Regions from separate parts of the Homo sapiens genome. Here region 1 is linked to region 2. The links come from fine-mapping of genetic effects on gene expression. A gene starts in region 2. The other region holds a variant in brackets. All regions are shown on one strand. Distances are between the middles of the regions. Region 1 overlaps CFAP210 (cilia and flagella associated protein 210). Region 2 holds the start of PPIG (peptidylprolyl isomerase G).

Evidence for each region. PIP is the estimated chance that this variant, and not a neighbour inherited with it, causes the effect.
Region 1: its variant is the best candidate, but not a certain one, in a credible set for the expression of PPIG in Th17 cells (Schmiedel 2018, PIP 0.86).

Annotation. Positions count from the first base shown.
Region 1 is chr2:169,658,167-169,663,550 of GRCh38, reverse strand. It overlaps CFAP210 (cilia and flagella associated protein 210), which reads left to right. Exons shown (of 9, transcript NM_001085447.2): 5 at 1,115-1,271. It also overlaps the pseudogene LOC100421474. Among named protein-coding and RNA genes, the nearest start is that of CFAP210, 34 kb to the left of the region's middle. The variant A/T (reference allele first, on the strand shown) is at 2,944.
Region 2 is chr2:169,582,232-169,587,615 of GRCh38, reverse strand. It overlaps PPIG (peptidylprolyl isomerase G), which reads right to left and starts at 3,265. Exons shown (of 14, transcript NM_004792.3): 1 at 3,126-3,265. RefSeq lists an enhancer at 3,300-3,349.

The DNA of each region.
Region 1 (5,384 bases), 76 kb before region 2:
GACTCCAGTAAAAAATGTTTTCTCGATTGGGTGCATATGAAAGAAAGGTTGGCTGGGTACATTGGCTCATGCCTGTAATCCCAACACTTTGGGAGGCTTAGGCGGGAGGATTGCTTCAGTCCAGGAGTTTGAGACCAGCCTGGGCAACATAGCAAGACCCCATTTCTATAGAAAAAAATTTTTTTAAAGAAAGAAAGGTTTATTCCTCAGACATTCATCTATTTAGGTGGGTTGTCGACCTGCCCTATGCCTACCTTTTCAGGAAAAAAAAAAAAAAGAGAGAGAGGGCAGATAGAGTAGTGAGAAAGCCTGTATATTGTTGATTGGCTAGCAAGGATGCGTGAGTTTTCCATGGGCAAGGAGACAACTTGGACTTGCGCTGTCTTGCCAGTATGCAGAGGTTTGGCTGCTGGATGAAGGGCCTTTGAGACCTGGAGTCTTTAATCAACTGCTTAGTGTGGGAGCTCCTGGTAGCGATAGTGGTGGGGTTTAGGGGTGAGCTGAAGAGATGGAGCTGGAGCTAAATCACTCAGATCAGGGCTCTGCAGTGAGGAGGACCCTCAGGGATCTCTGAGGAACTCACACATGTGTTCTGAAAGATAGCCAGGGAGGCTCACAATTCAGAAGAAATTATCAGCTAGTCAATACTGGCTACAGAAAGAATTACAACCCAAGTGGTCAGTTGAGTAAGGAGACCTTTCTTCCTTTCATTCCATCAAACTGCATTCCTTGAGAGGCTAGGCCCATGGCTTATGTAGCATCATCTAGGGCTGAAGTTGGGAAGCACTAGGGATTAGGAACCTTTCTGTAAAATAATGTCACCATTTCTTCTTACTGTCATCCCATTAACTGGTTCTTTCTAAAGGAAAAGAACACTTACTTGGGTGAGTAATGAAATAAATTTTGAAGCAAGGAAAGTATTGCCAATTCTAGGTTAACCAAGATTGGATTAGTTTTAGTCACTGCTATTTAATGTCTGTTCTTTTCCCCCAAAGAAATTCACAGATTTTTCCTTGCAGCTTCAACTCATTCCAGGTTGGAATTGAATTCATTTCTTAAAAATATAACCTATTTTTCTGCTTTGTTCTCAATTATAATTATGTTTTTGCTTTAGAATAAAGGAACATGAGGAAGAAGAGGAAAGAAGGAAAAAATATGAAGAAAAAGATGCTGAGGAAATAAAGCGACAGAATGCATTATATGAAATTGAAATGAGAAAAAAACTAGAAAAGAAAAGAGAAGAGATGCATGAAAGCAGGAGACGGTTTCTTGTAAGTTGAAAGGGCAAAAGTTCCAAAAAGGTTCAAAGTCAAATGCCCAACTTTTAAAATTGATACATAATATATTTGTACATGTTTATGGAGTACATGTGGTATTTTGACCCATGCATACATTATGTAATGATCAAGTAAGGGAATTTAGGTTATCTGTCACCTTGAACATTTATCATTTCTTCGTGTTGGGAACATTTCAAATCTTCTAGTTATTTTGAAATGTACAATATATTGTTGTTAACTATAGTCCCCCCACTAGGCTATCAAACACTAGAACTTATTCCTTATATCTAACTGTAAGTTTGTACATCCCCACTGTGTCTCCACATCCTTACCAGCTTCTGATAGAATAACTGTCATTCTAGTCCCTGCCTCCACTAGATCACTTTTTAGCTCACACATAATGAGTGAGAACATAATATATTTGTCTTTCTGTGCCTGCAAATGCCTAACTTTTAATATTTAAAAAAAAGTGGAGTAGAAAACAAGTTGCTATTAAGTTGGGTTTCTAAGGGAGTGCATCCTTTTGGGATAGCTATATTTGCTGTGGTTTTATGTGCATGTGCTCTCATGCATGAACAAGAAAGAGAGAAGAGAAAATGAGATTTTAAAACAATGAATATATTTTCTTGAGAGTTGTGAGGAATGAATGGGGTGATTTATGTTTGGTGTCTGTTGTGCCATTAATATGTGCTCCACAAATGGTAATATTTTTGTCGCAGTTCACCACAGGGGCATGTTTGAAGGGTCTTCTCGTCCCAGTGCCACTGCTCTCTAGCTCCAGGCCTGGGGCTTCCCCTAGCACTGCTGAGGAGCTGTCTGTGCAGCTCAGCCCCTGGAGGGCAGAGGAGAGGGGCTGAGAGTGCTTGGAGGTTCAAGAGGAGGATAAAAGGATAAGGATAGAATTACAAGCAGTGCCTGAAAATGCCCAGCCTACAGAATCTGAAAAGGAAATTTATAATTAATTAGGTGAATGTAGTATTAAAAGATGCAAACGGCATCTTGGAGGACTTACAGTCATACAGAGGAGATGACCATGAAATACAAGAGGTAATCCAGCAGCCAGCAGATGAGAAGTTGCAAGAGAAGGCATGGGGTGCATTTGTTCCACTGGGAGGCAAATTAAAGAAATTTTATGAATTGTCTCAGCGGTTAGAAGCAGCATTAAAAGGTCTTCAGGGAGCCTTGACAAGTACGCCATATTCTCCCACCCAGCATCTAGTGCAAGAACAGGCTTCTGCTAAAGAGTTTTCAGAAGTTCTTCATTTCACACTCTGGTTTGATGAACTCAGGATGACAAATCCTGCTATACAGAATGATTTCAGCTATTATAGAAGAACATTGAGTTGTATAAGGATTAATAATGTACCATCAGGCCAGGCGTAGTGGCTCATGCCTATAATCCTAGCACTTTGGGAGGCTAAGGCAGGCAGATCTCTTTGAGCTCAGGAGTTCGAGACCAGCCTGGCCAACATGGTGAAACCCTGTCTCCACAAAAAATACAAAAAATAGCCAGGCAGGGTGGTGCACGCCTGTGGTCCCAGCTACTCAGGAGGCTGAGGCTGGAGGATTGCTTGAGCCCTAAGTGGAGGTTGCAGTGAGTCAAGATCGTGCCACTGCACTCCAGCCTGGGCAATAGAGCAAGACTCTGTCTCAAAGAAAAAAAAAA[A/T]AATATATATATATATATAAAATAAGCAACCTAATGAGGCATCTTAAAGAACTAGAAAAGCAAGAGCAAACCAAACCCAAAATCCCTAGACACAAACCAAGTGCAAAATTAGTAGAAGAAAATAAATAATAAAGATCAGAGCAGAAATAAATGAAATGGAAAGAAACAAAACAAAACAAAAAAAAACAGTGAAATGAAAAGTTGATTTTTTTTTTTTTGAGACAGAGTCTTGCTCTGTCAACCAGGTTGGAGTGCAATGGTGTGATCTCAGCTCACTGCAACCTCTGCCTCCTGGGTTCAAGCAATTCTTCTGTCTCAGCCTCCTGAGTAGCTAGGATTACAGGCACGCACCACCACGCTCAGCTAATTTTTGTATTTTTTTTAGTAGAGACAAGATTTCACCATGTTGGCCAGGCTGGTCTTGAACTCCTGACCTTGTGATCTGCTCGCCTTGGACTCCCAAAGTGCTAGGATTGCAGGCATGAGCCACCGTGCCCAGCCAGAAAAGTTGTCTTTTTTTTTTTAAAGATAAACAAAATTTACAAACCTCTAGCCAGATTAAGAAAAAAAGAGAAGACCTGAATAAAAAAACTCAGAGATGAAAAATGAGACATTACAACTGATGCTGCAGAAATTCAAAAGATCATTAGAGGCTAGTATGAGCAACTATATGTCAATAAATTGGACAATCAAGAATACATGGATAAGTTCCTAGACACATACAACCTATCAAGATTGAACCATGAAGAAATCCAAAACCTGAACAGACCAATAACAAGGGATGAGATTGAAGCCATAATAAAAAGTCTTCCAGTAAAGAAACTTTTGAGTTAATGCTGGAATGAGTTAAGACTTTGGGGACTGTTGGGAAGGCATAATTGGTTTTGAAATATGAGAAGGACATGAGATTTGGGAGGGGTTAAGAGCAGAATGATATGGTTTGGCTCTGTATTGCCACCCAAATCCCTTGTTGAATTGTGATCCCAAGTGTTGGAGGTGGGTCCTGATGGGAAGTGATTAGATCATCGGGGGTGGTTTCTAATGGTTTAACACCATCCTCCTAGTGCTGTCTTGTGAGTGAATTCTCATGAGATTTTGTTGTTTAAAAGTGTGTAGCACTTCCCCCTTCACACTCTCTCTGTCTTACCATCATTTGAAGACATGCTTACTTCCTCTTTGCCTTATGCCATGATTGTTAAGTTTCCTGAGGCCTCCCAGCCATGCTTCCTGTACAACCTGTGGAACTTTGAGCCTATTTAAACCTCTTTTCTTCATAAATTACCCAGTTTCAGGTAGTTCTTTATAGTAATTTGAGAATGGACTAATACAGTAGGTATCATAAGACTCTATGATTAAGTATATTCAGTGGGAGCATTTGCCAAAACTTCCAAACTTGGTATGAAAGGTTGTACCAAGTTCTTTTTTTTAAAGCCCAATCTGGTGGACAAAGGTAACATATCTTCCTGATTTTTTATTTATTTTATTTTTTGAGATAGGGTCTTGCTCTGTTGCCCAGGCTGGAGTGCAGTGGCATGATCACGGCTCACTGAAGCCTTGACTTCCCAGGCTTAAGTGATTCTCCCACCTTAGCATTCTGAGTAGATGGGACTAGGCATACACCACTATGCCTGGCTACTTTAAAAAATTTTTTATAGAGATGGGCTATGTTTCCTAGGCTGGTCTCCAACTCCTGAGGTCAAGCAGTCCTCCTGCCTTGGCCTCCCATGGTTCTGGGATTATAGACATGAGCTACCACAACTGGCCTGTATCAGAGTTCTTAAGGACCAACCTCCTAATAGTGTAAAATATCTTCTAAATGCTCTCCGGTACACAATAAAACATTTGAATGATCAGACTAACTCCAAGCAAATTAAATCCATGATGCAATAACAGTTCGGGAATAAGCACCTGTTGTAGACAGAAGACAGTATTCTGCACTGACTGAGAATACAGTTTTTTAGTGATTGCAATTACCATGACATTTTTCTTGCTTTTATGTCTTCCTCTGTTCCTCTTCTCTCCTTTAAGATCATGTTCTTATTCCTAAGACTTCTTCTCTATACCCAAATTAGTAAAGTTATACTCTAAAGAGATATTGTCCTTTCAAACAGGTAACCTACAGCAGCTAATTATTGGGGTCTCTACTGAGAAAAATTCTGTGACTTTTATCTAAATATTTTCAAATGTGAATTTTGGGGAAACTAATATTTATTTGCTTCTCCTACATGGCAAAACTGCCAATTCTGCTATTTGAAAACCCCCAATGACTTTATTTTCTACTATCACTTTTTTCATGTGCTGCCACAAAATGAAAATGTTTAAATATGTTGTACAAATGGTAGCCAACACAAACTTTTTTGTAGTTTTTAAGAGTTTAAAGTTTTAATTTTACATTTTGACCTTTTTTGTAAGGGTGTATGTTATGTGTTTCACCTTTGTTA
Region 2 (5,384 bases):
CATTAAACCAGGGAAAATCACCGACACTTAAGCAACATGAAAATTGAAGTTTAGTCCTAACATTAAAAGCAAAAAGGTCTGGGCACGGTGGCTCACGCCTGTAATACTAGCACTTTGGGAGGCCAAGGTGGGCAGATCATGAGGTCAGGAGTTTGGGACCAGCCTAACCAACATGGTGAAACCCCATCTCTATAAAAAATACAAAAATCAGCTGGGTGTGGTGGCACATGCCTGTAATCCCAGCTACTCAGGAAGCTGAGGCAGAAGAATTGCTTGAACCCGGGAGGCGGAGGTTGCAGTGAGCCGAGATCACGCCACTGCACTCCAGTATGGGCAAGACAGCGAGACTCTGTCTCAAAAAAAAAAGCAAAAGTCAGGCTGGGCACAGTGCACAGTGGCTCACGCCTGTAATCCCAGCACTTTGGGAGGCGGAGGCGGATGGATTACTTGAGGTCAGGAATTTGAGACCAGCGTAGCCAACATGGTGAAACCCCTTCTCTACTAAAAATATAAAAATTACCCGGTGTGGTGGCAGGCACCTGTACTCCCAGCTACTAGGGAGGCTGAGGCGTGAGAATCCCTTGAGCTCAGGAGGTGGAGGTTGCAGTGAGCTGAGATCATGCCACTGCACTCCAGCCTGGGCGACAGAGCAAGACTCTGTCTGAAAAAAATAAATAAATAAAAGCAAAAAGCATGCAATGCCACAATGCAACAGAAAGACTTGCAACAAACTCTTCAGGTCACTTGCATTAATTATCTATGTATTCCTTCATGACATCTTAGTACACTGGGATTCTAAAAATAGACAACATGTTATAATTATGTTTAAATACTCTATTTATAAACTAATAGGAAGGAAAAAAGCCTAACTAAAGGGGCAACTACTATTTAAAGAATTAACCCCAGATAGTGTCCTAACAGAAGTACTTTATTATGAATGGCTTCCACTTTCCCTTTGTATAAAGAAGAGGATGCTGCCTCACAGAAAATCTAATTTAAGGCAAAATATCAAAAATATGTAGAAGTCACCAATACTGCAAGACCACAATAATAAGCACCACAGTAAATCGACTATATGGTTAAAAATAAATGTAATGAACACTCTTCACCCATAAAGGAACCACTGAGTTAATGAAAGCCAACTTCACACACAATTTTAACAAAGCTGAGTATTTAATTTTCAAGCCCACAGTTGATGGAAGGTGGAGATCAAAATGTCATTTTGCAGGTAGGTGAAGAAACTGAAGCTCAGAAAGATAATTGGGCCAGAAAGTCCAAATTTTTCTAACCTAAGAAGTTTACATACTTATACACTCCTGACAGCAGGAGCACTCCTGACAACTGACTGCCTAGAAAAGCCTTAAAAAGGAAACCAACAATTCAAATGCGCAGAATCCTACTACAAGACCCTATAGGATCTCAGAGCATCAATAATTCTGAATCATAAAGAAATAGTCAAACAATGTACAATGAACTCTTGTTTAAGACACAGAACCATGTAATTTGTTACAGAAATAATTCTGTCCCAACTCGTTAACATAAAAAAAAGGGGAGTGCTAAAACGGGTAAATTTTCAGGATATATTAAAAACAGGAGAGAAGCAGCCATTCTAAATGTATCTTTTCTGGATTTTATAGCACGATTTCAAAATTTATAAAATGTTCACCCCCCCACCCGTCATTGTTACAAAGTAGCAATTACCGGCCATCCTGTTACCAAATGGGAATACACAAAGACAAAAACGTGTGTGTGACCGACACACACACACACTCACTCTTTTTTCCTGGTTTTAACTACTGAAAGTTAATATCAGGCCCCCCTAATTTCTAAAACATCTAATTGTTCTTTGGACAACTATGTTAGTACCAAACTATAAAAGCAAATACTTTTGTATTTGTGTTCACTACTGCAAAATGTTGGTTACACACAGAAAGGGCTATCGTGGAAAGAAATTAAAATCAATGCACAAAATGGTGCTTTTATAGCATTTCCAAAACGATTGTGCATACTCCTTGCCAGCACATCTAGACTTTGCTCCTTAAGACTAAACATGAGCTGGCCGTGCGCGGTGGCTCTCGCCTGTAATCCCAGCACTTTGGGAGGCCGAGGTGGGCGGATCACGAGGTCAGGAGATCGACCATCCTGGCTAACACGGTGAAAACCCGTCTCTACTAAAAACACAAAAAATTAGCCGGGCATGGTGGCACGTGCCTGTAGTCCCAGCTACTTGGGAGGCTGAGGCAGAAGAATCACTTGAACCCAGGAGGCGGAGGTTGCAGTGAGCCAAGATCGCGCCACTGCATTCCAGCCTAGGCGACAGAGCGAGACTCCGTCTCAAAAAAAAAGACTAACCAAGAACCAAATTAGCATACTTCCCCTTCAGGCATACTGAGCCCCGAAATCATCATCTTCCTCCTAAAGAGTAATTATCTCCTCCTAAAAGGCCTGCGCAGCTCACAGCTCCTCCGAAACACGGGGGAACTTCGCGAGAGCTCAAGACCCTGGACTTGAGTTTTAGAAAAATGCTTAACAAAGTGGCCTCTGCCACTTAACTGCACGACAGCCACTGTGCTGTGAGAGGAAAAGGTCGAAAGAGGAGGAAAGCTAGTCTTCAATTTTAATCCCTGTGATTCAGGCTCTTCGCCCGTCACTCTCCAACCCTAGCCTGACAGGACGTCAGGCTGTCTCCCCCTTCCCCACCAGTCCCGCCACCTACCCCGCAACAGTGCTGAGTCTTAGGATTTTGAAGCTTTAAAAATCAACCCGGCTCCCTAGAGTTCAGGCCGCAGTCGCTGCCGCCATGTTACAGCTTGTGCGGCAAAATGCGTCAGTGAGGGAGGTGTGCGCCTGAGTGGGGAGGGCGGGGGCTGGCAGAGGAAGGACCGTCCCCAGGCCCCGGGGCTCGACTGCAAGCCTTCTCCTTCTGCAACAGCGGCAAAGGCACTGCTGCGGTCCTCAGGGACTTCCTCTGGGCCCAAGCAGCCCCGATACCTCGAGGGAAAGACGGTAAACCCAACCCGGTCAGCCGCGCCGGCTCCGCCCCTCTTCCCAGGCCCTTCCCGCTTTCGTACGCAGGGACTGCTGAAATGACGCCGCCAGAACAACTTGAGCCTCATACCACTTACCTGCACCGGTAGAGTTTTCCTCTTCTCTGGGTCCGGTCCTTTGAAGCGCTTCAAATCTACCGCCGCCAGAAAAGGCGCTAAAGCCCGCTAACCGCCTCCCTCCCCCACAACTCAGTCCTGGCATGGAGAGACAGCGTCGCACCGGAAGCGCGTCAGGAGTGGGTTGTCAGCATCGGCCAGCGTTCACCTGCTTGCGTCACCACGCCCTCCTAGGACTTCTAGGATTTTGGTGCCTTTTAAATTCCTAGTTTATAGGTGGCCTAATGCTTTGTGGATGCGTTGACTGGGAACGCTTGTAACCGTTAAAATGCCATATCCTTTGTGAAGTAAAGTGCCTCATTTAATAAACATTTATTGATCTTACGCTAGGTTATCAGAAAGGAAGGCCTACCTTCATGGAGCTTCCAGTTAAGCTTCCACTTAACGCTAGGATATAAGTTCTAAAAACGCAGTAATGAGCAAAGTGTTATTTGAGGAAAGAGGAAGAAATTACAAAGAGCTTTGATGTTCTTTGTTGTTTTACAGATAAAGAAATTGAGGCTCAGGGAAGATAAACGCCTCCTCCTCAAACACACTGTTCTTGAATGCCAAAGCAAGTCTTTTGATGCCAAATCTAGTGCCTTCTAGAGAAAATATGGCATATATTATTTAATTATTTTAAGGGGCAAGGGTCCCCGGATTATGTTAGAAATAAATAACCATTGCTGTTTGGGCGGGGGGGTGGGGGGGGATGGGCAGTGATTCTGGTAGGGATGTGGGGTGTGTTTTAAAGGAACTAGCTAACTAGAGGACTTAAATTGTTCTGTCGTTTAAAGGCAACGTAAATTATGATCATTTAAATTTTTCACTCACTTGCATCAGGTAAATTAATTATCAACAACAGTTAGGCATGTGGTGGTGCTTCTAAGGGGCGTGACCAGTTTTACACAGCAGTAAAACAGAGGACATTTCTGCCTCTCCACCCCCACCTCTTTTAAGTCATTGCCCTTTATTGCAGGAGAGCAGCAGCATATTCATCTTTAGATAGTTCAGAGATTAAACGGATTTACACTTCGCTGTGTGTGGAGGGGACAATTCTGCAATACCTTAAAACAGGGGTCCCCAACCCCTGGGCCACAGACTGGCCTGGCTAATTTTTTGTATTTTTAGTAGAGACAGGGTTTCTCCATGTAGGTCAGGCTGGTCTCAAACTCCCAACCTCAGGTGATCCGTCCTCCTTGGCCTCCCAAAGTGCCGGGATTACAGGTGTGAGCCACCACGCCCGGCCAACGCTTTTCGAAAGAAGACATACTTGCAGCCAACAATCATAATGAAAAAGCTCAACACCACCAATCATCAGAAAAATGCAAATCAAAACCGCAGTGAGATACTATCTCATACCAGTCAGAATGGCTATTATTAAAAAGTCAAAAAATAACAGGTGCTGGTGAGGTTGTGGAGAAAAAGGAACATTTTACAGTGCTGGTGGGAGTTTAAATGAATTCAACTATTGTGGAAGACAGCGTGGCGATTCCTCAAAGACCTAGAGGCAGAAATACCATTTGACCCAGCAATCACATTACTGGGTATATACCCAAAGGAATATAAGTTGTTCTGTTATAAAGACATACACATATGTATGTTCATTGCCACACTATTCACAATAGCGAAGACATGGAGTCAACCTAAATGTCCATCAATGGTAGACTTGATAAAGAAAATGTGGTACATATACTCCATGGAATACTATGCAGCCATGAAAAAGAATGATCTCATGCCCTTCGCAGGAACATGGATGGAGCTGGAGACCATTATCCTTAGCAAACTAATGCAGAAACAGAAAACCAAGTACCACATGTTCTCACTTATAAGTGGGAGCTAAATGATGAGAACACATGAAGACATAGAGGGGCACAATACACACTGGGGCCTATCAGAGTGTAGACAGTGGGAGGAGGGAGAGGATCAGGAAAAATAACTAATGGGTCCTAGACTTAATACCTAGGTGATGAAATATTCTGTACAACAAACCCCCATTACACAAGTTTACCTCTGTAACAAACCTGCATATGTACCCCACAACTTAAATAAAAATAAATAAATGGAAGGATACTGTATGTATAGTGTATATAATAAACAACATTTGTTATCCTATAGTTTCCTTATATATATTTATATATATATTTATTATCCTAGTGTGTGTATGTATACATATACTATATATGTGTATATATACATATATATACACACACATATATGTACGTGTGTGTGTATATATGT